2 separate regions of the Homo sapiens genome follow, and region 2 is linked to region 1. Evidence: fine-mapped expression QTL. Tissue or cell type: nasal epithelium. Region 1 holds a variant in brackets; the other region holds the start of a gene. All regions are shown on one strand. Distances are from middle to middle.

What was found. PIP is the estimated chance that this variant, and not a neighbour inherited with it, causes the effect.
Region 2: it holds the start of UNC93A, and the variant in region 1 is fine-mapped to the expression of UNC93A in nasal epithelium (TOPMed, PIP 0.99).

What each region holds. Positions count from the first base shown.
Region 1 is chr6:167,268,676-167,271,438 of GRCh38, reverse strand. It overlaps a transcript of UNC93A not described here. Among named protein-coding and RNA genes, the nearest start is that of UNC93A, 21 kb to the left of the region's middle. RefSeq lists an enhancer at 2,590-2,763. The variant C/A (reference allele first, on the strand shown) is at 1,660.
Region 2 is chr6:167,289,771-167,292,401 of GRCh38, reverse strand. It overlaps UNC93A (unc-93 homolog A), which reads right to left and starts at 1,087. Exons shown (of 8, transcript NM_018974.4): 1 at 826-1,087. The coding sequence starts at 912.

The DNA of each region.
Region 1 (2,763 bases):
CCCTTTCATTAATCCTGGAGATGATGGCACGGAAGGGCAGGCAGAGGGCTGCAGCCTGGCTCCTTTCCTTCAGTCCTCCTGATGAGGTTCTCGCTCTTTCTTAACTCTGGCCCTCAGCAGAAGCACCTGGAGACCTTGCTAAACTCTGCACAGCTGAGCCCCGCCCAGAATTGCAATTCCCTCCCTTGCTGCCTAATGACTCCCAGGTGCTTTCCTTCAGGCCTCCTGTTGAGGTTCTCTGTCTTAAGCTCTGTCTTAACTCTGGCCCTCAGCAGAAGCACCTGGAGACCTTGCTAAAATCTGCACAGCTGAGCCCCGCCCAGAATCGCAATTCCCTCCCTTGCTGCCTAATGACTCCCAGGTGCCGCGACGCTGCCAGCCAGGGGAACACACTGCGGGAACCCATGCCTGGCACAATCCTTCCCATCCAGGCCTCCGCCCACGTGGCAGCCCATCCCTGCAACACCTGTATCTTCCTGGACAACTGAATTCAAATGCCCCTTTGTGTTAGTTTCTTGAGGTCGCCACAACAGGAACTTCTTGTCCCCCAGCCTGGAGGCCGGGAGTCTGCACCCACGGTGTCAGCCGGGCCAGGCTCCCTCTGCAGACTCCACAGCGGGAGGGCGCCAATGCCTTGCTCTTAGCTCTGGTGTTCGGGGAAACCCTCGTTTGTAGACGCGTCACCCCAACCTCTGCCTTCGTCCTCAAGTGGTCACCTTCTCCCCGTGCTCCCCTCTCCTCCCATGAGGACATTGGTCACATGGAACTCGAGGCTCACCCTGCTCTAGTTGACCCCAGCTCAACTTGATCAGTTCTGCAAGTGAGGGCTCGTTCACAGGCACCAGGTTAGGGCTTCAACATACCTTTCCGGGGGATGCAACTCAACCCACAACCCTTTCTCCTCCGAAGGTCTGTCCATGTCCCCCACACCGGAAGGCTCCCCTTTCCCCTAACCCCCCATGTCCTTCGTGATGGGGCCCTGCTCCCTCATCCCACTGAAAGCTCCCTGACAACAGCACTCATCTTGTTCACCTCTGGGCACCCCACAGCCCTCCGCATTGCACCCTCTGCTCATAGTTAAGGCCAGTTTGTTAAGAGATGGCATCGGTGATTATGACGCCTGGCTGACTTGTGACAAGTTCTGTCTTAAGAACTTAACACAGAGCTTCACAACAGCCATTAACAGGTATGTGCCATCATTATCCCTGTCTTAGACATGAAAAAAGAGAGATGCAAAATGATTAGGTGACTTTGAGAGCCCATGGTCAATAGATGCCACAGCCAGACATGAACACAGATGGATGGGTCCTCCAGAGTGTGCCAGATATAAACGCGGTGGGGTGGGGACTCCGGACCATGTGAACGCCCCCCCCCCACCCCCACCCCCACCCCGTGCAGCCTCTGGGCAGTCCTTTGTTCTGACTTCTCAGCTTTCTACCAGGGCCAGCTGCAGAATTTAGGGGCCCAGGACAAAACACAAATGCAGGACCCCCTGTACAAAAAGCAGGAAAAAGTGCCATTATTGGCCGGGCCCAGTGGCTCACGCCTGTAATCCCAGCACTTTGGGAGACCGAGGCAGGTGGATCACGAGGTCAGGAGATAGAGACCATCCTGGCCAACACGGTGAAACCCTGTCTCTACTAAAAACACACACACACA[C/A]AAAAAAAAGCCAGGCGTGGTGGTGGGCGCCTGTAGTCCCAGCTACTGGGAAGGCTGAGGCAGGAGAATGGTGTGAACCCAGGAGGCGGAGCTGGCAGTGAGCCGAGATTGTGCCACTGCACTCTAGCCTGGGCGACAGAGCAAGACTCTGTCTCAAAAATAAATAAATAAATAAAAATTTTTTAAAAAGTGCCATTATGGTAGTAAAATATAAAGCTTTTTCCTTCCCTCTGCAGTCTCTTTCCCTTCTTTTCATTGGGTTCCTTTATTTGCCACATTGTCATTCTAAGAAGGAAAATTAAAAATTATTAGTCAACTTATTTTGTGCAATGCCAATTTCAAATGCAAATATAGGACCATTTATCTCATTTGCAAAATCACCAAAATTTCTCAATTTGCAGTTCGTAGCTTGTACATGTTTTCTTCTTATCAGAACAGTGAGGCACTACACAAAACTCCCTCAACTGTATCCACTACAGCTCCTGATCCAAGACTGGGTCTCTGGGCGTCGCTCACCGTGGTTCCCTCAGCACAGAGCCATGATGTTCTGGCCAGCACGGGCGCCTCACTCGCCCATGCAAGCCCTGCACAGCCTGCCTGTTCCGCCGGTCTCCAGCCACGCTCATCTCGCTGGGTTTTCCCAGCCTGCTCACCTCTCAGCCTCGCTACGGCTGCCCACACATTCCTCTCTCAGTCACACATTGGGGCCCCTCCAGCTGCTTCGTCCTGGTCCCAGTGGGCCACCAGGTAAAAGTGTCACACTTGTAAATGTTCAATTGATGCAAATTCACATTTAAAGTTTGTTTACTCTGTCCCTGCACAAAAGCTTTATTTTAAAGTTACACGATTAGACAGAAGTGGACCTTTGTCCTGGCTGAGGCCCTCCCATGGGTACCCACCCCCTGAATGGCTGATGCAAGACGGCAACAGTGTTGACTGAAACCAGGCAGTTTCAGGCCACAGCCAACTGGGGACACAGCAATGAGTGATGAACGGTCGGGGTCCTCTATGCCGCGCCATGAAACCTGAACTAACCAGACAAGTTTATCCAGAGCTGGACACGACCCTTTGGGGGCCATGCAGCTTTATTATTATTATTACCAT
Region 2 (2,631 bases), 21 kb before region 1:
ATGCACACAGTAGGTGCCCAATTCTTATTCTTCATTGACGAACCATGTAAGACCACACTAATTTGTCATCAGAAGCTCTGAAATGTTTTATGTGACCACACCAGGCCACAGGGTACAACACTGTGGCAATGAATAAGCCGGGGGAGTAACAATAGCCCTGCTTCCTGACCAGCCCTTGGAATTCCCTGGAATTCAGACTGGAATCCAGGTAAAGATCAGACTTGAAATGTAACCAGCTTGGGAAAATGTGTCAGGTCTATGTCTAGGTGCACATGATGAATGCTGCAGCCTTTCGGAGAATGCCGTTTGGCTTTTTCATGGGCTCACGGAACTATGGAGGAGAGCATGCCATAAGGAGTTCAAAGTATAGAGAGATCATGTTGTCAAAGTTCACAGTTTAGCTTAGAGTAGGCTTGGAATGTATAAGGTCTAGTGACATTTGATAAATTCACATGGCTGCCCCTAACCACAAAGCCAAGGGCATCCAATCAATCATAGAATTCACAATGACTTTTCCTGTGTCTCCTTTTAACCACCCAAAGGCAAAGAATGTCCCAACAAATCACAGTCCCAAGACCCCTGCTGTCCTTGTCCAAGAGCAACGTGCACCTCGCTGTTGTGCAATCCTATTGAGACGTGAGTGGGAACTGCTCACTGTAGGACTGCATCTGAGAACCACTGTTTGTTTTAGAGGATTTGGTACAGAGTGAAAAAGAAACACCAGGTGAATTAGATTTTTCAAATTTCCAATTCATTATTGTCTGTGACCACAGGGATTCTTGGAGGCCAAGAAGTTCAGGTAATTTGATGACCGGACACACATACCTGCAGGCTCTGCAGACCTCCATAGGCTGTAAAGAGAAGCAGGAACCCAAAGGAAACCACAAGGACGTTCCTTAGACTTCTGTCCATTGTGCTGGATGAAAAGATCAATCACCAGTGAACACGTAAATTTGTAGCTCCCTAAAAGAAACCAATTGAGGCATGGGAAAAACAATCAGTACCAAGAAGTCCCATTCTCTCTCTCATCTGAGCTAGAGGTGAAATGTTAGAGGTGTGTTAGTCATTAAGACTGTCACTCGTTAATGAACTTGGTTATCACTGACCCCATGAAGCATACGGGAGCTCTGTTACTCATTTACCTTCTCTGTGATCCACAATGTCCACTTTGTATGGGGCAAAAGATCATTACTCTTACCAGCTTCTAGTTAATTGCGCTTTTTTCCTATTAAATTCTAATAGACATGGTCCAGATGGTAAAGTGATATGTTTCACTTTTTATGTGTATATAGAATAGAACCTTCCACAGTAAGAGAAACTGTCAGAAGTTGTCAGTGGTGCAGAATGAGGACTTCAGTCTTAAAGAACAAAGCATAAATGTCAACTTCAAGACACATAGTTCAACTTCTGAAAAAGAGCTAACGTGATTGTAAGATCCTGGGGCCAAAGTCTTAGTATTGCAAAGACTGTACAGTTTCACAACACAGTACAGCAATTATTAAAAGAAAAAACAACTTACATGAGTATAGTACTTTACAATATGCAAAGAATTTCATGCATTATTTCATGTTACCAACAATAGTGCTATGCTAATGATCATTAGAAATCTTAGACCCATTATAAGACAGGAAACAGCTTCAGAAAAGTTAAATGATTTGGTATTTTGGTCTGGGGCAGTGTTGTCCAGTATGGTAGCCACTCGCCACATGTGACTATTGAGTTCTGAAATGTGGCAAGTGCAACTGATAAAATGAGTTCACAACTGCATCTCCTTTTAGTTAATTACAATTAAAATTTAACCACATGTGGCTAGAGACAACTGTATTAGACGGGGTAAGTCTGGAGCTTTAAGCAACTTACCACAAATGTCATAGCTAATAAGCAAGAAAAATTATTTTTATTCAATTATAAGTAAAACTTGATGTCTGCAGATTGTTTCCAAAGTTCTGTGAAGTCAGCCATTTCTGTCTAGATTAGATCTATAAGGCAAATCTCGCAGGTAAGTCTAGCATCCTGGCAACACTACTCAGGGAAGCTTGCCAGACCATCAGAAGATCAGGGCCAATGATAAATGGGGTAAAGTTCTTGTCACTTAATGTATTTCAGTGAAAATGAAAGTTTTATGAAAACAATAGCTTTTTATATTAACTAAACATGGACTATCATGCTTACATAGACATAAGAGCCACGCAGTCTAGCAAAGGGATTCTGAGCATGGAAACAGATGAGCTCCACGGGTTCACACCCTAATCCTGTAATTTGTTAGCTAGGTGATCTCAGGTGGGTCACTGAGTCACCGAACCTGTTTCCTCTTTAAAAAGGAGGGTTGCAAAAGTTCAAGACTTGGATAATTTTGAAAGCCCCTAGAACAGCACCCGATATATAGCAAAAATGTTAACTTCAAGATACATATATGGTTCAACTTCACCAATAAATGTTATCACCAATAAATGTTAATTGACTAAGATGATATTTTGACTTTCAGAGACAATACAAATTAGAATAATATGTAAAGAAATTAGCATAATGTGGACTTCTTCATACTAACCGTGTTATCGATCAATCAACTTGGACCTTATTTTTATTTTTTGGCAACACTTTAGTTTACTTCAGTTCTGGCCTCTCATTAGT